3 separate regions of the Homo sapiens genome follow, and regions 2 and 3 are each linked to region 1. Evidence: fine-mapped expression QTL. A gene starts in region 1. Each other region holds a variant in brackets. All regions are shown on one strand. Distances are between the middles of the regions.

What was found. PIP is the estimated chance that this variant, and not a neighbour inherited with it, causes the effect.
Region 2: its variant is fine-mapped to the expression of KCNJ1 in unexposed skin (GTEx, PIP above 0.99). The same link has a PIP of 0.9 or more in lung.
Region 3: its variant is fine-mapped to the expression of KCNJ1 in sun-exposed skin (GTEx, PIP 0.98).

What each region holds. Positions count from the first base shown.
Region 1 is chr11:128,863,749-128,871,929 of GRCh38, forward strand. KCNJ1 (potassium inwardly rectifying channel subfamily J member 1) reads right to left here and starts at 3,548. Exons shown (of 3, transcript NM_153766.3): 1 at 3,425-3,548. It overlaps LOC107984409 (a long non-coding RNA gene), which reads left to right. Exons shown (of 3, transcript XR_001748442.2): 2 at 149-262; 3 at 3,002-3,431. RefSeq lists an enhancer at 7,087-7,849.
Region 2 is chr11:128,898,185-128,906,365 of GRCh38, forward strand. The region is part of intron 1 of KCNJ5 (potassium inwardly rectifying channel subfamily J member 5); the gene reads left to right. KCNJ5-AS1 (KCNJ5 antisense RNA 1) reads right to left here and starts at 8,047. Exons shown (of 4, transcript NR_045767.1): 1 at 7,965-8,047; 2 at 6,247-6,427; 3 at 5,183-5,327; 4 at 1,381-4,529. RefSeq lists an enhancer at 3,446-4,204 and a silencer at 6,912-6,981. The variant G/C (reference allele first, on the strand shown) is at 4,876.
Region 3 is chr11:128,918,536-128,926,716 of GRCh38, forward strand. It overlaps KCNJ5 (potassium inwardly rectifying channel subfamily J member 5), which reads left to right. Exons shown (of 3, transcript NM_000890.5): 3 at 1-2,628. Among named protein-coding and RNA genes, the nearest start is that of KCNJ5-AS1, 16 kb to the left of the region's middle. RefSeq lists an enhancer at 7,853-8,181. The variant G/A (reference allele first, on the strand shown) is at 4,411.

The DNA of each region.
Region 1 (8,181 bases):
CTCCTTAGGGCAGAACATCTTTGGATCCTCAATAGTTTTGAAGCGACCTGTTCTCTGCACTATTTTTGGTTTCTTTCTGCTATTTTTCTAAAAAGAATCCAGGAGTTTCATGTGTAAGAGCATCGTTCTTTTTTCCGTTTGCTCACAGATTCTGACGAGGCAATGGCAAGAAAGGCTGACACTTTGCACATCCTTCACAATCTTCTGCAAGGATGGCTTAGAATCGTCCTGCGTGGAGGAAGGAACAACCTTTGACCTTAAGGTAACTTAAGGTTTGACCTTAAGGTTTATTACTGACTTTTCTTTTTCTTTTTTCTTTTTCTCTCTTTTTTTTTTTTTTTTTTTTTTTTTTTGAGACAAAGTCTCACCCTATCACCCAGGCTTGAGGAGTGCAGTGGCACGATCTCAGCTCACTGCAACCTCCGCCTCCCGGGTTCAAGCAATTCTCATGCCTCAGCCCCCTGAGAAGCTGGGACTACAGGTGTGTGCCACCATGCCTGGCTAATTTTCAAATTTTTAGACAGATGAGGTTTTTCCATGTTGGCCAGGCTGGTCTTGAAATCTTGACCTCAGATGAGCCTCAGCCACCAAAAGTGCTGGGATTACAGGTGTAAGCCACTGCACCAGGCCTATTGTTGACTTTTCTAGGGGTCTATCTTTTATATGTCTCTACACTAATTTTTTTCTTCAGCATTTTTTGAAGATGTTTGTTTTTGTTGTTTTCTTTTTCCAATTTCTGCACACCCTGCTTGTTCATGATGATTTCTGAACCACATAATCGAGCCAACCACTTTTTGCTATTTCACAGCAGTACTAATACTATTCCTGAACCATATATATTTCAGGAGAAAGAGCAGATTGGGAAAGCCTAGGCCCTTTTCTGTATACTTTTGGCTTGAGCCTAGGTCATCACAGTCTTGAATGTGGGAGGGTGAGTGGAAGGAAAAGGGTCTGTGCCATTCAAAGTGTGCTCTTTTTGCGGACTTTGGGAGTCTCTGGCTCCTGTTTCAGAGCTCCACTTCATCCTCGCCTGTCCCCATCACTCTCTGCAGCTGATTGGCCACCAGACTTTGTGTCTTCTCCCTCTTGGTAATCTCCTCCCTGATTACCCGGCCGTGGTCTTACCCTACTCTAGTCCACCTTGCACTGTGCAGGCAGAGCAACTCTTCCACAATGTAAATAAGATCTTACCCCGGTTCTCACCACCTTCCGGACACTGCCCAAGTTCCTCAGCATCACATACTAGGTCCTTCATCGTGGCACCCTGCAGCTTCCCTCACCCCTCCCCTGGCCACCCACCCTCAGCCACACCAGCCTGGTATTCCCTGTGTAAGTCATGCTCTCTCTCATTCTTGCATATTTTTGTAAATGCCATTTCCTTGTTCTAGAATGTTCTTCCCCCTGCCTCCAGTAGGCCCCTTCCTGCCCACCCAGCGCATTTAGGATCATGCTTCCATGAGGTCCTCTGTAGGAAAAGTATGATGTACTTTTCTGTGCAGGCAGCGATGATACTATGAGCTACATTTCTGTGTCACAGTCCCCACTCATCAGGTATCTCTCCCATTAGCGTGTGAGAGCCTGTTTCCATGCACATAGCCCCTAGCCCAAGTACCTGCCCTCTAGAGCAAAGCATTTCCCAAGCCATTCAGTGGTTTCCCAGGACCTAGCATCCAAAACACAATGAGTTCTAATTACAAGCTTGTTGAAAGGCAAATGAAGAAAAAAACCTGTATGTATAATAATAATAGTCATGAGAAAGACAAGAATGAAGAGAAGAAAGACAATAGTCATCACTGGCATCTTAAATTATGGAGCCAAGGGGAGAAACATTTGGGTCACCCTCAGGATCAAACTGCCAGGCCAGAAGCAATTCCACTGAGAGGGCACCAGGAAGCCTTCAATGCATGGAAACCCTGGAGCAAGTAAAAGGCAAAGCATGTGAGTCACAGCTGAATCCCTGGACAATCACTGAGCTGTGACAAGGTGCAGGGTAGACTCATAACCTAGCACAGAAAAACACATTACTGAGGAAAGGAAAAGAACGTGAATGGGGAATTTTGAGACTTAGCTCTTCACAGAAAAGCATGCTTGGCAATTACAAACTTCTTATATTAAAAAAAATCAGGCAAACCAAAAGTCATTAAAGCATTAAAGATTAAGACCCACTCACAAGGAATTCACATACTCTGCTTCTTTACAAGGGCAGTCTTGCACCTACACTGACTTGGTGCACCTCCTTACACAGAAGAAATCCACCTTCATGACTTGAGTATAAAAAAATGCTTTTCTGATGGCCCATACGTTCCCAGATATCTCCACCCCATCATGCTCTTAAAAGCTGAAGCTGACTTAGTGAGAATCCATTTACACTAAACAGTGTAGAGTAAGACAACACAAGCCAAGCCCATGACTGAAGGGAGCCCACAAAGACTGGGCAGCTCCTCCAATGTAACCGAAGATTCAACCAAAGATTCTAACTGCCCTCCAGCCCCAGGGCTACGGAATGGCCCAGGGAAGGCAGCGTGCAGCTCGCAACTAATAATCCAGGTACAACCAGCAGATCAAAAGCATCCAGTGAGTGGCTCTGCCAAGTCCCTGTCCATAAAAGGTCCATAGCACAATCACTATGTTTTGCTCCATTTTGTAAGCCCAGCTAAAAGGAGAAAAATTCAATCATTTTTCCTAAAGATTGCTGGTTGCGAAAGACCAACTCCTTTTAAGCGTCTATGCACCAAATCTGTAAGATACAGATATTGGGAGAAGGGGCTCCATACCTGTTCAGAGCAGAGATAAACAGTTGGCATTCACTGGTATAGAGCAATTGTCACAACAGTCATTAGGAAGCTGAACAAATGTTGAGAAATCCAAATGTATCCATTCAGAATGGTGCAAAATTCCTATAAAGTCCTACATCAGAAAATGAAAGAAAGACATTTGGGTGAAGGTAATCAAAATGTCTGGCTAACTCTTGCCTTTTCCTGATATATGTTTTCCATAATAGACCCCACTAGCACCTTGATCCTCTACCTTAAAGATGGAAACGGCTTGGCAGAGGTTGTGTTACTAGGCAAGGTCTTGCTACAATTGAAAGGATGCCACCAGAGATGAAAACCCTACATACATCTCTGCCACCAAAAGAAGACTTTGGAATCAGGCATGATGCAACCAAAGATTCTTACTGCCCTCCAGCCCCAGGGCTGCGGAGTGACCCAGGGAAGGCAAGATGCAGCACACAGCTAATAATCCACATGTAACCAGCACACCAAAAGCATCCAGTGAGTGAGTTAAAACCATGCTTCTATCTATCCCCCAGGAGTGGACAGACAAGTCTGCCTAGATTTGAGGCGGGGAAAAGAGGTCTAAATTTTCACAAGAATTAACTTCTTTTTCCTACAAAGAGACAATGAGGTGTTTCTCCTCTTACCTCATGGATTGCTGGAGTAAATGTAGAAACAAAAACTCATTTTCTTGGTCTCCAAGAAAGCAACCAGATTCTCGATGTGAGCAAGTCCCTGCACCTTTGATGCAAGAGTTTGGATATGCTAGGTGAGGGTACCCGAGGCCCTGTTGATTTTATGAGTCTGTGGGCCAGCTCAGACCGGCTGCCAACTCATCTGTATGCAACAGTTCTCAAAGAACATAGTTTACTTTATAACCGGATCCAACAAGAGTAGGCGTGGCAGTTAAGTGAGTGAGATACCAAAGGTGTTGAGCTACCAAGGCTAACTAAGAAGGATTTGTTTATGGAACCCTGGCTTGGAACCAGAAGGCCGGTATGCTCATGTCGATGTGTCTAAGTCAAAGGCATGAAGTTGAACACGTGCGCACATGAGGCTGGATGTTACAGGGCAGGGAAGTAGGGGTCCCCAAGGAGCCCCTCACAAATGTCTCCTGTCCTGTGAATCACTCAGTGGCCCTAGAACAGCAGTCCCCAACCTTTTTGGCACCAGGGACCAGTTTCATGGGAGACATTTTTTCCATGGACCAGGGAGGTGGTGGGGGAGGATGGTTTCGAGATGATTCAAACACATGACATTTATTGTGAACTTTGTTTCTACTGTGTTTACTTATAATAATTACTTTACTTCTATTATATTCTATTATATTCCTTATTTCATTATATATTATATTCTAATATATAATGAAATAATATTCTATTACATTATATAATATTCTATTCTATTCTATAATATTATAGAATGAAATAATGAATATGGGATGAAATAATGAAATATTCTATTCTATTATAGAAGGAAATAATATTCTATTCTATTCTATGAAATAATATTCTATTATATTCCTTATTTCATTATGTATTATATTCTAATATATAATATAATATATATTATGTATTATATTCTAATATATTATATAACATATATTATGTATTATATTCTAATATACTCTATAACATATATTCTGTATTATATTCTAATATATTATATAACATATATTCTGTATTATATTCTAATATATTATATAACATATATTCTGTATTATATTCTAATATATAATATATATTCTGTATTATATTCTAATATATAATATATATTATGTATTATATTCTAATATATAATATATATTCTGTATTATATTCTAATATATAATATAATATATATTATGTATTATATTCTAATATATTATATAACATATATTACGTATTATATTCTAATATGTTATATAATATATATTACGTATTATATTCTAATATATTATATAACATATATTACGTATTATATTCTAATATATTATATAACATATATTACGTATTATATTCTAATATATTATATAACATATATTACGTATTATATTCTAATATATTATATAACATATATTACGTATTATATTCTAAATATTATATAACATATATTACATATTATATTCTAAATATTATATAACATATATTACGTATTATATTCTAATATATCATATAATATATATTATGTATTATATTCTAATATATAATGAAATAATTATACAACACCACCATAATGTCGAATCAGTGGGAGCCCTGAGCTTGTTTTCTTGCAACTAGACAGTCCCATCTGGGGGTGATGGGAGACAGTGACAGATCATCAGGCGTTAGATTCTCATAAGGAGCGCACAGCCTAGATCCCTCGAATGCGCAGTTCACAAAAGGGTTCAGGATCCTGTGAGAATGTAATGCCGCTGCTGATCTGACAGGAAGCGGAGCTCAGGCAGTAATGTGAGCCATAGGGAGTGGTCAAAATACAAATGAAGCTTTGCTCACCTACCACTCACCTCCTTCTGTGCAGCCTGGTTCCTAGCAGGCCACAGACCAGGTGTGGGGACTCCTGCCCTAGAAGGTCAGGCTGACCTGACTTTCTCTTGGCCATTCACCAGCCACCCTGGTCCCGGGGCAATGCAGAACTTTACATCACAGACTTTGCACTTCAGTGGTGGGGTTGAGACCCTGCTCTACCAACTGCAAGTTACCTAGCTTCTCACCTCAGAAGTCTACAGTGGGAAGCTCAAGAGATAGCATATGTAATACACTTGTCATTGAATGAACAGGGTTGAAATCCAACCTACTCCGAGTGTCAGCCTTCTGTCTTCCTCCTCAGCCCACCCCCTAGGGCCATCTCCCACTAGGAGACTGAGGGAGAGGAGTCCTTACCCCACACCCCTCCTGAGTTGCTCTCTTCCCACTGTTCCTCACACTTCACAGCTGGTAATCACTTGAAGCATTGATTGGGTTCGCAAGAAGCAAGAGTGGGTGACTGTGGGCTGGCCACATGCCCCTTCACTGCCTGTCCCCTCCTCCACTCAACACCACACAAGATTGTAGGAGGGATCAACCTCAGCTCAAGAGTCAAAGAGATGAGAAGCATCAGAGCAGCAGCGTAGCTTGGAGACCATACACCAGGTTCCTGACACCAGTCCCCGGGGCAGGACAGCTGAGTCTCCATGATGCTCAGAGAAGGGATAAAATGGAAACAGATGCAAAATTTCACGGAAAAGGCACTTTTGCTTTCAAACATTTATAAGCATAACCAGTCATTACAGATAAGGAAAAAGAACATAGTAGGTTGCTATGGTCTGAATGTGTCTCACAAAATTTATATATTGAAACATAATCCCCATGAGATAGTTTTAAGAGGCAGGGCCTTTAGGAGGTGATTAAGTCATCAGGTAGAGCCCTTCCAGATGGGGTTAGGGCCCTTATCAAAGGGCTCGAGGGAGGAGGTTCATTCTCTTCTGCTGTGAGGACACAGTGTTTGTCCTCTTTCTGCCCGTCTGCCTTCCACCATGTGATGCAGTGGTCAAGGCCTCAGCAGACATCAAACCTGCCTGTGCCTTGGTCTTGGACTTCCAGCCTCCATAACTCTCTGTGGTTTATAAATTACCCAGCCTCAGATATTTTGTTACAGCAGCCCAGACAGAACAAGACACAGGTGTAAGTGAAGCCACTTGCAGAAGGGTTCCCATGCGAAGTGAGGTGGGAGGAGACCCACACTAAGGAGCTACAACATGGTGGGGGAAAGAGCAACAGGCGGGGAGTCCACGCTCCTGCTAAATCTGGCCTTCTCCCTTCACAGGTGGCCTCCTGTGGTCACGCCTGTCCCTGCTGCTGCTTGCCGTCCTTGGGTTCACCCCCTCTGTCCACAGGCCCTCCCTTCTGCACCCCTCACTGCGTGGCCCTCTACCTACCTTTGCAGGCCTCCCAATCCCCCCAGTGGGATATTCCCAAGCCTCAGGTTCACCCAACCCTACCCCTGAGCAGGCCTGGGTGTGGAGGCCAGGAGAACACGCCCTGCAGCCCAACGAAACGCAGGGAGAGGAAGTGTCCAAGGCCAAAGGGGCTGCACTCTGAAGGGACTGAGCACAGGAGGACATGAAGGGAGGCAGTCCCCGGGAGAGGTGGGCTCCTCCAAGGGTGCCTTTGGCTGGAGCACTCTTGCACGGCCGTGGAATCTTCCTTAGACTCCATGGCAGTCTAGGATGCATCCTCCCAACCTGCTCTCCCTCCTCCCCTCAGGGTCTGCCCTGAGTCCTGGTCTGAAAACTCCTCAGACAGCCTCCCTCTGACTTTCCTCACCTGGGCATCTCCTCCAACAAAATCTTGGCATTTTTAATCCCCTCTTGGCATCTGCTTCTCAGAGGCCCTGGACTGGTGCATGAGGCTCTTCAGATGGGATGTGAACTGTCAGAGAGCTTGGCAGGAGGCCCTTTGGAGTCCCACAGAACAACTCAGGAAAGGGGGCTTCCCTGACCCAATGTCCAGCGTGGAGGCCCTAGGGGGCAGGCATTCTGAGCCTCCCCACCTGTGTGGGCTGAAGGCGTGTCTTTGACTCTTGTGATCCAGCAGACAGCTGTGGAAATACAAACACATACAGAGAAACATGTGTCTCCCCCAGGTAAGCATTCATCCTCACAGAATAAACCCCAAACAGGGAGAAGTGTTTTTTAACTACTTCATTCATTTGCAAGGCAGGTACCTTTTGCACAATGGAGCCAGAATGTCTCATTATTATGCAGACCAGGGAGTTATCTTACCTTCATCCCCCACTCCTTGCCCCCAATCTTCAAAACTGGGCCCTTTTGGACCTGCTGGGAATGAGAAAGAGGACTGTTGCTAAGCAACAGGGAGGGCAGGGGATGCATTCTCCCTGTTCCACAAATCCTAGTCTTAAAGCACAAATGATAGCGTTTGCCCTGATGGAATCCTACACCTTCCAGTACCCCAGCGGGATGCACTCTCAGTCCTTCCGCCTTACCACTGTCTTCACGGAGAAATTCCGTTCCTGCTGTGGCGCCTGGCAACTGCTTCACTACCTCTGTAGCCATGAGACAGCCTGAGTCCTCCATGGTGGGATTGTGTGTGACAATGAGAAGACAGCCCAACTCCTCTTTCCCTGATGCAGTCCGGCCCCTCTGTGCTGTGTAGCCTCACCAGGTTCCCAACACTGATGAGGTTACACGCCCAGCATTTACTCCTCAGACTGGACCTGGAGCATCCCGCCGCTGGACCTGAGTGAAGACCAGAGTCAACAGACGGTTTTCTCTTTCTCTTAAAGAAGTTTGGAACATTTGAAACATATTATCCTATTCATGACTAATATTCCAACAGGAGTCATTCAGATAAACAAAAAGCCTTTCCAGGTGCTTGTCTGATTTAGAGGAAGGCAGCACATTCCCATTCACACAACAGAGGGGCCA
Region 2 (8,181 bases), 34 kb after region 1:
TAAAAAATCTTGTGAGATTTTGATAGAAATTGCATTGAATCTGTATATGAATTCAGAGAGAATCAACGTTTTTACTATATTGAGTCTTCCAATCCATGAATACAGTATGTTTCTCCATTTATTTGCTATTCTTCAGTTTCTTTCTTTGGCATTTTGTAATTGTCAGCAGTTCTTTTTGCTCTGCCATGAACTAATTGTGTCGCCTTGGACATTAGTCTTTCAGACCTTCAGTTCTCTTTCTGTAAAATGTGTCTAATAACACCTACCTTGAAATGCCATGGGAAAGTCAAATAAGTTAGCGCATGAGCAGTGCCCCATGGCAAGCGCCAAGATGCAGTTCCCTTCAGCTGGGTCTCTCATCTGTTCTTTGTTTCCTCCTCCTCAGCTTTCGTTCTAATGCCCACATCCACTTACACTTCACTTTGTCTTTCCTTTTTGTCCTTTGCTTTTTTAAATCCTTCTTTCATTCTCAACTCCTTACTCTGATTTTTCTATTTCTTTCTTTCTTTCTTTTTTTTAGACAGAGTCTCACTCTGTCACCCAGGCTGGAGTTCAGTGGCGCAATCTCGGCTCACTGCCAACCTCTGCTGTCTGCGATTCTCATACCTTAGCCTCCCGAATAGCTGGGACTACAGGAACTCACCACCACGCCCAGCTCATTTTTTTTGTATTTTTAGTAGAGATGGAGTTTCACCATGTTCGCTACGCTGTTCTCGAACTCCTGACCCCAGGTAATCCGCCTGCCTTGGCCTCCCACAGTTCTGGGATTACAGGCGTGAGCCGCCGTGCCTGGCCTTTCCTATTTCTTTCACTTTGTTTTTCTCTTATTCTCAATGGATTTTTCTGTTTCATTTCTTACCCCATGATATTTGTCTATCTCCTCTTTCTTGAATCATTTAAGCATTCCATTTTTGTGGAGTTGCTCAGACACTGAGTGTGAGTCAAGGGCCACTCAGCCTGGGTTCAACTCCAGATCAACCACTTACTAGATTTGGGGCAGTTGACTCACCCTCCTGCACCTCAGTTTTCTCATCTATAAAATGGGGAGAACAGTATCTACCTGGTACCTTTTCTGAAATGATTAAATGAGTTTATACATGTAAAGCATTTGGAATAAAATTGGGTATATGGTACAGCCCCAGTAGGTGACGATAATTACTGGGATTTTACCTGTTATGTCCAGTTTCTGTGGCTCTTTCTCACATTTACCATCCCTCACCATCTCATCCTTTTCACTTGTATATGAATATATTCAAACTCACATTATCTTGCTTTCAGGCTGTTGTCTCTGTGCACTTCTACCTCATCTTCCCTAATCATCACTGATAAATTGGCACCAGCCCAGGAAATCTGTCCCTTGGGTTATAGACAGGAAACAAGTGGTTTTTCATTTTGATTTAATTATTAATCCCTTTTATTATTTAATGTGGAATACATACACTGTGGGGTTACAATGAAGAAAATGGATTATCACTGTGCGGCTCACTTTCAAAGAGATGGCAGGCTTAAAAAGGAAAAGTACCAGACAGACAGAAACAAACGTGGGGAAAAAGCAAAATTAATTAATTTGATTTCCGTGCCCTTTTCATGGCCATGACTTTTCATACATCTTCTGTGAGATCCAGGAGGATGCATGTGGATTTTGCAAGTAAGCCAAGCGAGGTATTAAAGGGAAGGGGTGTAAGGAGTGGCGAGTGGCCCACAGTGGCTCACCAGGGAGGGCAGAAAAATATTCATCCTAAGCAAATGGGAGCCTGGCAGGTTGGGAAACTCAGTCACAAGCTCACGGGCCTGCTCCATACGTACAGTCCTCAATAATGGGCTTGGTCTGTGATGCAAAGCTACCTGAAAGGCACTCACCTATCACTAACCCTTTCGAATCTATATTCCATACCTTGAATCGGGCCTAATATCTGCCCTTTAAAAAATTGCTGAATATATTTAGACTCACTTAGATACACTGGGCAGAGGGATATTTTAAATACCATCAAAATGGTCTTTTTGTCTCTGTATTTTCTCCAAAGAATTGAACTCCCCAAGCAAAATGCCAGATCTGCCTGCGCTCCTTTCAGACTAGAATTCTGTCTCCCTTTAAAGATCCTTACATGAAACACCATTTAATCCTTCTCTCTCTGCCTTTTTGTGTTTATGGTGACCTCTCAGTATTTTGGTTTCTTTAATGACAAAGTAACCATGGAATTAGTCCACAGCATTTCTAGGGTACGTGTTTCTCTCCAGATATCAAAAAATAATGCATGAGGTTTTATTACTTCCTTAGGCTTGTGGTGGGGAATCCTCCAAGGATGGAGTTAAAATGAACAGCCAATACTCTCTCGCTCCTCTGGGCTACCCGAGGCTCTGCAGGCCCCAAACTCACCTTCTGTTGCCCCATTCAGCACCAGCCACCCCCCTTTGTTGTGCAGCCAGAAGCCAGGGCCGCCTGGCAGGCCTATTGCTAAATCTCCCAGTGTTTGTATTACATAAAACTTCACAGTCGGTGTTTCTGTGTCTACAATGCCAGAATCCTGGAAATGAGTTAACCCAAATTTGTGTGCCTTCTGGCAAGCCCAACTATCCAACTACAAAAGGGGACTAATGTGATAGGATTCTCCTGAGCCAACACAGGAGTTGAAAGAGCCCAACAGAGGTGCAAACTGCCATTATGATTCCATGATAATAATTCCACATACTAGGAATACCGGGATTATTTCAGACCTTATATCTGCTCTTAACCTATACCAATCCAATCCAGGGGGGCCAAGTACATTATACCAGTATTTGGTAGGATAGAATTTTTCCTGATAAAATGGCAGAGATGTCATGAACATTAGGATTTCCACAAATATTTCTATTTCTTATATAGGAAAGAGACCCAGGGTGGTAACCTGTAGAGTAACATGTAATGTGGAGCATAGGATGTGGCCAGGAGAGTCAGGGTTATGATTCAGAACCAAGATGGCTGGACTCAAATGGGTGTGAAGTAGGAGGGTGGGAAAGCGTGGGTTCTGAAGTCAGGCCGCTGTCAGTTCAAACCCAGGTTCTGCTGCTTGCAAGCCATGTGGTCTCTGGCAAGTTCCCTCCCTGCTCTGAATCTCAGTCTCCTGATCTGAATAATGGACACATTACACTTATTCCACAGTGTTGCTGAGCTGATCAAGTGTGTTAACACGTGTAAGGCACCCAGTCCAGAGTAGTGCACGCAAACACACACACACACACTTCACTTCCAGAGCTGTTCTGCAAAGAAAAACCAAAAGGCAGTACAAGCTGCTGCAGGCAATGAATTGATGACGTGTTTAAAACAAAAGCAAAAAGAGTGCAAAGGCCATGGAGAATGCGGCACAGACAGGAAAGATGCTCCCTAAAGAGCTTGCCCAGGTCAGGATGTCTCCGAGCAAAACGAGGGACACTGAGTGACTCTGGGAGCAACCTCAGTCCTGCATCCTCGTCAACACCCTGACTGTTCTCAACAATAATCCCACCCATGTGGGGAGCTCCCCTTTGAGGGACTGAGGCAGCCCAGAAAGGAGGCACAGGATGTACTGAGAAGGGGAAACCTGGGCGTCAGTGACAGCTCCCCAGGGATGGTGGGTCTGAGCAACGCTGATGCAGCGGAGCCCCTCACCCACCTGAGATGCCTCGTCCGCCTTCCCAGCAGCTCCCTTCCGCAGAGTGCTTAACAGCTTGGCAATCAGAGAACGCTGTGTGCACGGACAGCTCCGCGGGGATGAAGTGTCCCATCTGACAAAGACTGTTCTGAGATCCGCGCTGTCCCTGCCTGGCTCTGCGTTTCACTGAAAGCCCCTTGCCCTGATTCTAGCCCTCAGCCCCCACGCACAGCCACCGGCGACTCTAGCCACCCTGGATAGTAAAGGTGCCCTTTCTGGGGCATTCTGCTTCGAGAAGAGGCGGAAGAGCTGTGCATGCCTGGAGCCCCTGGGAGCCCATGACAGCCAGGAGCATCCTGGGCATAAAAATCAGCACCTGGGGCCTCATTCCACTCATCTCGCACACCTCTGCAGTCCCTTCCACGATGCCCTCACCGCTGGTAATCAGCATCCATTACATCGGCGCCAGGAACCAGCTCAGGAGGCCACCTGATCCGCCCTCCTGTCCCTCCAGCCCTCCTCTGGAAGGACTCAGCGCTTGCAGTCAGACATCTCTCCCCATTGAGACCATTTTTACTGTTGGTGAACTGGAGGACTATCGCACTGCCCAAGACACTGTTCTCTGCAGCAGGTTTGCACAGGGTGCCAGTTAGGGAGGAGAAGGCAGCGAGGAACCCCGCACTTTAAGGAACAGGGATGTCATAGCAGCCGTCTGCATGGGGGAGGGGGCTGGGGAGCACAGGGCTATTGGCAAGGAGACAGGGCTAGTTAGGACCACCGGAACCAGGCTGATGGGCACTGAGGGGGTAGCCCAGGCGGCCCTCTCTACTATCATGGGCCTTGCAGATTGAGTTCTCCTCTTCCTGCCGGGCCGCCTGCCTTTGTTGTCCTGAGGACTGACAGGTAATGTTTGTGGCAGACCTGTTGGTGCAAACAGGGAGGCTGTGAGAGGAATTCAGTGGCACTACCACAACTCTTAACAGCACTCTCAGCCTAACTCACAACGCAGCCCAACATGTCCATGGGCAGAAAAGGCCTCTCTCCGACTCCCTAGCCCAGAAATACGAACCGGCAGCTGACAGACTGAATCTGACTCACACATAGATTCTCTATGGCTTGCTCACTTTTTCAAAAATTGTTGAATTAGTGGTCAACATGGAAAAAAAATTTCATCTTCAAAAGTTTAATTTCTGGCTTTTCTGGAAAAAGCAAAGGGAGGATCTTGCAGTACTGGCTCCACGGCATGGCAAGGCAATAATGAACTAGA[G/C]CCGAGTAGCAGCTGCCGCTTTAGAACTGCGTGTGTGTACAGCTCACCACAGTCCCCACCACCCCCTACCATGTCCCCCAAACCCAGGGCAAGTTTTGGTTGCATTTATCATGGGTTTGTATATGTGCTTTTCCTAAAATAAAGAGAATGCAACATTTTAAATGTTTCTCTACATCAAAATATGAAAATGAAGCTCTAAGACATCCCATTTAAATAAAAATAGGAGAAAGCCTACTAATTGCACGTGACCAAGAAGGATGTAGAGTGTGTCTGTGTTGGAAGAACGCGATCCGGCAGCTGCACTCACCTCACACAGCCACAGCCGTGGGTGTAGACGGCAGAGCTCAGCACAGACTCACAGGTTCTGGTTACTATGGCATGCACATCCTGCCCAGCTGAGAAATTCCAGAGTGAGGAGGTGTTACCCTCACTCCTGACAGAGGCAGACCTGCCTTAGATGAAGGAGAATCCAGTGAAGGGGTGTTAAGAATGAAATCAGTGGCTGCTAGTTAGTGGTCTTGTTTCTACTGCGGGGGCCGTTGTCCAAGCAGACCTTCAGAGAGTGACGGGGCACTCTTGGTGATGATGCCAGAATGACAGGTGTTACCTGGGATGCATGGACATCTTATTTCCTGGGAGCAATCAGGGACCTCTGGGGGCAAGTATTGTGCTTAGAAACACCGAGGAGCAGCTGTTAGATGAGTAGGGAGCATGCTGGAGGGGAGCAGGAGGGAGAGGGAGAACACAGCCCTGGCTGGCGGGAAGTGACCCGAGCTGCCGGGCAGCTTGTGCACAGCGGACCACATGGCAGGAAATCATGAGTTCCTTCCCTGGTGCTCCCCCCGGGACTCAGAACAACCCCATCACACCCAGAGGGCTCAGGAGGAACCAACCTCCCAGGCAGCGGTGGCTGCACTTAGAGCCTTTGGAATCAGACAAAACCTAGCCCGCTGCTTAGTAACTGTGTGGCCTGAAGCAAGCTACCACATCACTCTGCTTTTGTGACCTGTAAAATGAGGCGACTAAAACGGACTTAATAGATCTGTTTCAGGATTAAATGATACAATGCATGAAAAACACTCAGCACAAAGATGGCACAGAACAGGGATTCCATGCTGGAGCTATTATTACTGTTTGCTCCCCTGTTCTCAGGCCCACAAGGCTCTGCCACCTCACCCTGCTCACTGGACGCCTTCCTCACCAGGGCCTTCCTGACTCTTCCTCGCCCACCCCAGACAAGCCAAATTCAGGACTGCACCCTGGCCTCTCTCTCACTCTCTACTGCACTGATTTTTTTTGCCTGTGTACTCCCCACCAGACCAGGAACTCCTTGCGGACAGAGAACGCATCAAGGGTCGTCAATCTCATTACCTGTTGGAGTCACCTGGGGCCAGATTCTGGGACTAGGCATCAGCACGTTGTCCAGCTCCCAGCTGATGGCAGCGTGCGTCCAGGGCGGAGAGGTCGTGCTACTCAGGTGTGCACTGAGGACCAGCCGCGTCAACATCACTGCGGCTTCTTAGCAAAACCGCGGACTCTGGAAACCCCAGACCTACAGAATCAGAACCCGCATTTTAGCCAGATCCCCAGGAAGGGAAAGCACAGGAACGAATGCCAGTGAAGTGTGAGTCGACCTCCTTCTATCCCCAGAGCTCAACATAATTCAAACACCCAGTGGGTGTTGAGTGGGGGTTCGCTGACTAATTGACTGAGTGAGTGAAGCCCTGTGTCAGCTTCCACTGGGATTTCACACCTACTCCATCATGTGCTATGAAACAAACAGGCTCAAAAAGCAAACCCGTAAAACGTTCAGAAATTCAAAAATAGACACAGACCTAAGTTGATAGAACAAATAGCTGCAAAATGGTGCGGTTTTTAAATGAAATACCTGACGGGTTTTTAAAGATTTATTACCACCGGGCTCTGTGCCATTAAACCTCCGAGTACACTAGAGGATAATTTTGTTTTGTTTTAAGGTTGGTAATTGTGAAAAGCTGGGAAACCAGGACTGGCCCCTGGGAGGATCCTGTCCACCGGTGTGGCTTGGGCACAGTCTCTGGGTGGCTGGGGCCGCTGGCCCGCCCTTCCTCCAGGAAGAGAGACCCGCTGGCGGGGAGTCCCCGGCACTGCCAACGGCCTCCCCACGCCCGTTCCCTGGGGACAGGGCCTCTGTCTCCCCTCCGCAGGCCCCTCCTGGCTCTCACCCTCCCACCCCGCATCCCCCAGCCCCGCCTCCTCCGCAGCCGCAGAGCTGCAGCTGGCCAGGGGGCCACACCCAGGCGTCGAGCACCGCCTTATCCAGCCGCACTGGGGGCTTCGTCCCCTGCGGGGTGAGGGGTCTCCCCTGTGTCACCCTCCGAGGCCACGCTAGACGTTGTGGCGCTCAGGGCTCCCGGTTCCTGCCGCGCTGGGGCTCCCCCGTCCCAGCCTCCCTCCCCACCTCTCCCAGGCTCCCCTCCCCTGTCGCAGCCACCCTCCCCCGTCCCAACCTCCTCCCCTTCTCTCGCACGATCCGGCCAAGAGATGGCGGGGTGGCGGGAGGGGCGCTCTGGCGACCCCGGAAGCGAGAAGCAGGCCTCTGCAGGGCCAGGGATGAAGGTGCAAGGGAAAGCCCTGGGACCTGGACCTTAGGCGTGGGAGGGACGAAAGGGAAAGGTCTTAGAAAATTCCTCAGGCGTGGCTTCTGGGGGGGCGGGGCGGGGGGAGGAAAGGGGCACGGGTTCCCGGTCTCGTAGACGCTGCAGCGGAGCAGAGCCTCTAGGCATGCCCTCATCTAGAGCAGCTGCTGCGGAATCCGGGGAGCCTGCAGCACTAGCCGTGCGATTCCGGGCGAGGTTTTTAAACTCTCACCTGTTTTCCCCTTTTGTAAACTGAAGATAATGCCTCTCTCCCGGGAGTGGGAGCACGATGCTGACACACCGTAGGAACTCGGGACTTGCTGATTCTCCTTCCTTATCCTCAAGGCGTTTGAAGCACTCCTGCCCCTCACCCCCACCCCTCCAGCCCCTTTCCCAGCCCTGCCCCCTGGTGGAAAATCCTAAGAGCTACCTCTCAGGAGGGCTCCTGTAAACCAGGCACTGTACACACACCTTTCATTTCATCTTCGCAGCAGCTCTTTTTGGTGAGTACTGTTATCCCCATTTTGCAAATAAAGCAACGGAAGCTTAGAGAAGTAACTTTTCCAAATGTGCCTCAGCTCCAGGCAAAATAGGAACCTAGGTCATCTGATGCCAGAGTCAGCCTTCCTAACTGTTTATGATCCGACTTCCCTTTCTGTACTGGATTTTCTATTTCTGCCATAACAGA
Region 3 (8,181 bases), 55 kb after region 1:
CACAGTATTCACAGCTCTCAACTGGCCTTTGAGAATGGAAGCCTTTTCCTGCCCTGGATATGGCGCTTCTTCCTGGGAGAGGAGCAGAGCCACAGAGAGGTAGGAAGTTGAGGCAGAGCAAAGGGAAGGCTTCAGAGCTTAGGCCCGGTTCATCTCAGAAGTGTTTTCTAGGCCTGGGGCTGAAAGGAAGAGGGGTGGGGCAGCCTGGGACGGGAACTGCCTCTGTGGGCTCCCCACTCCCAGGGAGGGGCTCCATAAGCTTTGCTCCTGGGCTGGATCTTGAGAGGTGGGCAGGGTCTTCCCACCAGTGGCAGGGTGTGCAGTTGTGGTCCCAAGCCTTGGAGGGAATGGGGAATGGGCTGGCACCCGGCTCAGGGAAAGCAGAAGCAGACAGTGCCCCAGCAGGGGAGCTGCATGCCCCCAGGAGTCTCAGAAAGGCAGCCCATCACTAAGGCTGGATGCCTTTCAGCAGAGCTACAGCTGGAGCCCTCCGGCTGAGGCCAGCACTCGCCTGGGACTCCCTGGACCCCAGGGTTACTAACAGCAAAACCATTCCACACCCCCTTGCCAGATCTAAGCCTGTCTTAGGACCGTCAGTGCCCCCAGGTTAGAGCTCATGGGGGTCAACTAAGCGAGGGAGGGAAGGCGAAGGCAAAGCTGGCCTTGCACCTGGACAGCGGCCTGGCTCCTCCCCACACCTGCCTTCATTTATGACTCTGAAACATCCCCCACCTGACCAAGGGAGCCACTCTCCAGTTCTCTCACTCCACCAGGGCCCTCCGTGAGCCAGGACCAGGTCACATCTCTCAGCCAAGTCTAGAAGCTCTGGCTAGAGGAGAGGAAGCGTGCAGAGGGTCCTCTGCCAAAGCTCCCTGCCTGGCCCGAGCCCGGGCATGCTGGGATTAGTGCAACACCGCCCCAGTGTGCCTCCTCTGCCTTCTATCATGCCAGTTTAAAAGCAAGAAGACTCCCCCTTCACATCCTGAGGAAATCCCCTTCCTGGTGACCAACTGATGCAATGAAAGTTTGAAAAGTTCTTCATTTTCTAGAAGTTCTTGAATAAACATGGACTTACTAAATGCAGAGTCTGATGATGGACAGAGTTTCAAGGGGTCACTTTCAAAACATTTAATTAATTTATTTATGTAGAGACAGGGTCTCGCTCTGTCGCCCAGGCTGGAGTGCAGTGGTACAACCTCAGCTCACTGCAACCTCTGCCACCTCCCAGGTTCAAGCGATTCTCATGCTTCAGCCTCCTGAGTAGCTGGGATTACAGGCATGAGCCACCACGCCCAGCCATTTTCAAAACACTGCTCCTGCATACAAACCACTCAGAGGCCACTGCCCTTGGTTCTGTGATGGCTCTGAGCCCATGCCATCACATCTGATGGACCCCAGAGAGCTGAGCCGTGGTTTAAGATGGGGTCATGCGCTGGTCATTCCCACAGTCTTGAGTATCTCCAAAATCCCAAAGTGATATTTCACTTTCGGACCCTGAAAGTTTGGAGAGCTGGTTTCTTGCCTTAATTTAAGCTCTCTGAGAATGTCCCCTGTAGGGAGAAGCCTCCAGGAACTCAGAATAGAACTCGTTCCCACTCATTTTCCTTGCTCCACCAATCTGACGCCTGACAGATGTCACCACTGCCTGAAGGATCCTGTCCCCAGGCCAGGGCAGAATGGGCATTGCCTTTGACTCTCCCCTTCAGACTCCCCTCCCACCGGCCTCCTGTGTAGTCAGAGAACCCACTGCCCATCGCCTCCTGCTGCTGCTTTGAGGTTGAGGTCCTGGCTTGAGCAGTTACCTTGCTGGAGAAGAGGAGCCCCTGCCATCTGGGGAGCACTGTCCCTGCTCGTGATCTGTAACAGTGGGGCGCTTTTTCACACCCCTTATCTCACGGCTTGCTTCCAGCCCCCATCAATCCTGTGCCTCATGTGAGGTGAGCCCCAGAGAAACTTAAATTGCTTGTACTGAAGTTGCCAAAAACCAAAAGTTGCCCGTTGTCATTTTTAAGACTGTGCCCTGAACACACCTCTGCCCATGCGCCATGGAGCATGTGTTAGGTGCCTGCCGTGGGTCAGGCACTTGATTCTCAAAACACTGCCGAGAAGCTCTTACCAACGTGACAGTTGAGGCTGAGAGAGGTTCATGAGCTTGCTCAAGGCCACGGGTAGTAATAAGAGGCATGGCCTTGGTGCCAAGTGCCTCCCAAACAAACAGCCGGGGCCGTGGTCCTGCCTAAACTCTCACATCCACGGCACCACGCTGGGCCCAGGCAACAGAGATAAGGAGAGCCCTGGCTCTTGGGATGGGGTCGCGCCGATTCACATGCTGTGCCACGGAGCCCCGGCTTCCATCCATGATGTGCCCCTGTGGCGGGATAATTGGGAAACAACCTTTTTCTGATTCCCAGAGAACTAATGAGCTGCAAAAAGAGATTAGACAGGGAAGAATTGCTTTCGGGGAGAAGCCACTTACTCGGCTCGCCTTGGTTTTTGCTAACAACGTCTCCTTAAACTGCTGTCAAATCTTTTTCTCCCTGTGTAGGATTCATCAATCTTCGTATGCAAAAGAACACCACTGCACTGCACTGCTAAAAATTCACACAATAAAATGGACTTTAACTTGCAGAGCTCTTTCTCATTTTAAATGGACGGCCACTAGTTGCCCGTTTAAACTCATTGCCAGTTGTAGAAACCTTGTCCTTCTTGGTTTTGTTAGCCTAAAAATGTAGTATCAACATCTAGACTGGTTTCGAGGTGGGAGAATGGGCAAAGGTGGGGAGGAGAGAGCCGGATAGGGGCAGCTGCAACCAGGTGTTGGCAGGCAGAGCAGGCGGCAGTTGCGGAAGCTATGGGCAGCATGGGTTCTCACACTAAGTCATTCATGCCACCCCCAAATAACTTCTGTACATTCTTTAATGTCAAATATTCAGAACCCACATTACCTATGTAATGAGTAACTTTAAAAATATCTACTTCAGGGGGCCCTTGGACTAGCATTCTGCTGCCAGGGCATACATTTGCAAAAGGATCGTTCTTGCTTAACAGTGGGAAAGGGGCAGAGGAGTCTGTGATATCTAATGTTGGCAAAGGATCTCAGGATCTTTCGAGAGAAGTCCCAAAGTTTCTGTTGAAAATGTCCTTAGCAGTAGAGGATGTAAGATTGGATTCTCTTCTGCTCTGGTCACCCAATGGCAATATCGAAGAGCCAATATTTACTGAAAATCCCTCAGGTACACCATACTGAAAGGATAAAGTGGCTCACCAGGGCTCTGATTCAAAATGAGAAGCAGTATTTCCAGTTGGGAAAGGCAGAACAGCTCTGATGTGTGTGGGGGCATTTCCCACATCTGGCCCCATGGCCCACCCACAGTAACCAGGCATCAGCAAATCTGTGCGTGGGACTTGGGCCAAAAGCACGTGCTGAGCCTCAAATTCAGCCATGAGCAAAACTACCTGATGACTCTGAGGGTGAATTGCCTTCAGGGTGGGAAAGACCCATGCAAAGGCCAGGAGCTCTGGGGATGGCCCTTGCCTGGGGATTGCACTACAATTACTGCTCAGTGTCAGAATGGAGACATGAGGTCAGGAGAAACGATGAATCTGTGAATTTGCACATTTGTCAGTCAAGCTCGGATTGCAATTTGAGGAAGGAGAACTAGACATATAATCTAATAAAAGCAACAATCTGAATGTTACCCTTAGAAAACCCACTCAGGGCCGGCCGGGCACGGTGGCTCATGCCCGTAATCCCAGCATTTTGGGAGGCCGAGGTGGGCGGATCACAAGGTCAGGAGATCGAGACCATCCTGGCTAACACGGTGAAACCCCGCTGCTACTAAAAATACAAAAAAAATCAGCGGGGCGTGGTGGCGGGCGCCTGTAGTCCCAGCTACTCAGGAGGCTGAGGCAGGAGAATGGCATGAACCCAGGAGGCGGAGCTTGCAGTGAGCCGAGATCACGTCACTGCACTCCAGACTGGATGACAGAGCGAGACTCCGTCTCAAAAAAAAAGAAAACAAAGAAAAAATGAAGAGAAAACCCACCCAGGCCCAGAAGATGCGCTCTGCCGGTTCCAGTCAGAAGAAGACCAACGCCAACGCATGCAGAGCAGATGTCTCCTTAGGCCTTGTTAGATCCCAGCAATAAAGCGTGCTGACTTTCTTATGGTAAATAAATGTCTAGGAAGGAGTTTTGAAAACAGAAACATTGCTGACTTTTTCTCTAAGTGAGTATTTATGTTGACTCAGAAGTTGTTATTCAAATAACCTTGGCTCACTTGGTGGAGGCAAAAATCCTACATCCCAGAGGAGAAATTACTGAGAATTGGGCACATTAACATATACTTTGAGCTTCATTTTTCTACCAAGTAAGCAAAAGTGTAAGTGGAGAGATCCTCGGCTGTGCTGG[G/A]TGAGGCTGCAGCAGTGAGCGAGGACGAGGTGACGTGTAGGTTGACTGAGGACTCGTGTGTGTGCACCCACTGGATGCCACATTCCAAATCACCTCTTTTATTTATTTATTTATTTTTTTTGAGACAGAGTCTTGCTCTGTTGCCCAGGCTGGAGTGCAATGGCACAATCTTGGCTCACTGCAACCCCTGCCTCCTAAGTTCAAGCGATTCTCCTGCCTCAGCCTCCCGAGTAGCTGGGATTATAGGTGCCCGCCACCATGCCCAGCTAATTTTTTGTATTTTTAGTAGAGGTAGGGTTTCCTCATGTTGGCCAGGCTGGTCTTGAGCTCCTGACCTCAGGTGATCCACCCACCTTGGCCTCCCAAAGTGCTAGGATTACAGGCGTGAGCCACCACGCCCAGCCCCCAAATCACCTGTTAGATAAACATGCTCATGGAAGAGACTGCAACCAGCCCTGTGTGATCTGAAGCGTCCAGGGAGTAACTGTTTCTTTGCCTCACCATGTAGTTACCTGGGGAAGTGGGAAGGCGTGACCACTCAGGAATGCACCCACCTTCTCTCTCCTTACAGAGGAGAGCCCGCTGGTTCTGGTTCATGGAAACAGCTAAGAAAGGGGGAAAAGCATTTACTGAACCCAGACTGTGCCCTGATGGATGAGAATGTGGCTGTTTAATCTCCTGGTGTCTTTCCCATTCAGTAAGTGCACTGGGAGAGGCTTCACACTCCTCCTCTTCAGATGAAGCACCCCATGGACACACCCTGTCTTCAAATATTAGATAAAATCTTGCAGGGAAGCTGCTCCTGTTTAGGTCTCCCAGAACCCCACAGCAGCAGCAGTACCTGGACATTAGTCCAGGAGCTGATCATCCTGATCATTCCCTTTGGAATCGGTGGAGCTTTGCAGGGCATTCCAACAACCATCTCACTGTGATAAAGGATTAAAATGACATCTCAGAAGACACAGAGCCAACTCCACACAACGTCCAAAGGGTCTCTGACTTTTCATTACTTCAATTTTCCCACACATCCATTATTCAGCAAACATTTAATGAGCACCTACTATGTGCCCAGAGCAGGAAGAGGCACTGCACACTCAGCAGTGATAAGACTGTCTTAGTCCACTGGGGCTGCATTACAAAAATACCTTAGAGTGGGTAATTTATAAAGAACAGAGACTTCCTGCTCACAGTTCTGAAGGCTGGGAAGTCCAAGATCAAGATCAGGCCGCCAGCAGATTGGGTGTCTGGTGAGGGCCTGTTCCTCACAGATGGTGCCTTACATGTGTCCTCACTTGGCGGAAGGGGCCAACAGGCTCCCTGAAGCCTCTTCCATAAGGGCACTCATCCATCACGAGGATCCTCTTCCCACGACCTCATCACTGCCCAAAGGCCCCGCCTCCTAATGTCGTTACCTAAGGGGTTAGGTTTCAACAAAGGAATTTTAAGGGGACATAAATATTTAGACCATAGCAGAGACAATATGATCTCTTGCCCTCATGAAATTTTCTGTCTGGTGGGGACGGGGAGAGACACAGACAGAAAAAATACACAAATCAAAGAATTACAGTTCGCAATAAGGGCTATGAGGGAAACTAACAGGGGGCTGAGGTCAGGAACAGCAGGGCTGCCCCTGGGGAGGCCACAGGGACTGAGGCTGTAGGGGGCCTGGAAGCTGGACTTGAAACAGGAGCAGGAATGAGCTCCTCCGGCAAGGGCTCTGGGGGATCAGCCGTGTGTGAAGGTCCTGGGGTGGAAGGCGCAGCTGTATCCAAAGAACTGAAAAAAGCCCAGGGAAGCAGCAGCCTTGGGGAGGGGGAGCAGGGAGTCAGCCCACGCCTGGCTGGGAGCTAGGGCTGAATTCAGATCTCATGCCAAGTTCAGGGGAAAGCACACCAGGGGGCTTATCCGGGGCGACCCGCTGTGAGTCCAACCTGAGATGGTGTGACCCGTCCTTTCTCCTGTAGGTCACGGGTCATCAGCCACATTGGGGCACGGTCTGACAGCTCTATCTGGCTGTCCTCAACCCTGTCCTTTAAGGTCTAAAAGCCACAGGTCAATCTAAGTTCTTTTCATAAATATTTCCAAGTTGTAAACCCAGGAGTATTTCTGAGCCATCCTGGACAAATCCCTCCTAAGTATTATTGCACATGCCCTCTGTGTCAGAAGCTGGTCAGACTGTTCGAGGACCCTTCCCAGGGTCAGGGTCCATGGCCAATATCACTTGCTCCATTTCTCGCCTGCCTGCACCTGGGGAATGAGCTCAGCCACCCGCCTACGTGGGGTGCCAGGCGGCATGCAGACTCCTTACCAACGTGGAGAAGGCTTCCAGCTCACAGCCCTGACCTTGAGAGCTGCTTCCACATCCATTTCAATAGGCAGCATCTGAAAGAGAAAACCAGTCTCTTTTCAAGGCCCTTAAAGTGTTCATCTTGAAAGGGAAATTGCATTTTGCAAAGCACTGCTCATGCATCTGACATTTGTACATCTGGAAAACTGGGATTGCTTTATGTGGCGCCCAGTGAAATCCAGCTCCCCCTCTGCCTCCCACCCTCTCCCTTTCATGATCCTCTTCCCAGCTCCAATCCTGGACTCCCTGGGCCCTGGCCTCTGCCTGCAGCCCTCCTACCTTCTATGCATAATGCCCCATTTCCCAGCCATGTTAACCATCTTCCTCCGTGTATGAAAATCAGATTGTGGCCGGGTGCAGTGTCTCATGCATGTCATCCCAGCACTTTGGGAGGCCAAGGCAGGCAGATCATGAGGTCAGGAGATCGAGACCATCCTGACCAACATGGTGAAACCCCGTCTCTACTAAAATACAAAAAATTAGCCAGGCATGGTGGCACACGCCTGTAGTCCCAGCTACTCGGAAGGCTGAGGCAGGGGAATCACTTGAACGTGGAAGGCGGAGGTTGCAGTGAGCTGAGATCGCGCCACTGCACTCCTGGATGACAGAACAAGACTCCATCTCAAAAAAAAAAAAAAAAAAGAAAGAAAGAAAAGAAATCAGATTGTTCCTTTAAAAAAACAAAAACCGGCAAACAGACAAAACCCTTTCAGGGTGGAGGGATTTGGGAGCTGATTCTTTTCATGTACAATGAGGGTGTTCCTAGACGCCTTTCCAGGCCATCTTTTTAGGCTAGATGTACACTCAGCAAACATTTGCCAAGCCCCTTCTGTGTCCCAAGCACCCCACCAGGACCTGGGGAAACAAAGCTGACTCAGTCCCTGCCCTTTGGGAGCCTGCAGCCGAGCTGGAAGGAGGGTTCTGCGCTGATTGCTCTGATTCATTGCATAGAATAATTTTTGTTTGTTTAGAAACATCATTCTATTTTATAAAGACAAATGTCCACATTGTTGGACAAGAACCAAGAACCAGGTTCTTGGACAAGAGGCAAGAACTGGGTAAAAACACATGGACACATTCATTAAAAAAAAAAATAGTGAAAGAAGAGACTAAACATGCAGGTGTTGTCAACAAAAGCAATGATTTGCCATCAGGTCAGCATTTATGATTTACACGTTTAAAATCTGCCATCAAAAGACAGTGCCAATTCCAGGCAAAACCTTCATCCTCTCCGCAGCTAGGGCTTGCAGAGCGCGCTCTGTAGGAGACTTCCCCTGAATCTCGGGAACCAGCCGTGCCCAGCACCCTGCCGGGGGCCTTCCTCGCCGCCTCTGTGCGCAGAGGTCTGTCTGCGGAGAGCTATTCTGGATCTCCTGAGGGTTTCCACTGGGCTCCTCCAGGCTACAGCACAGGCATCCCTCTTT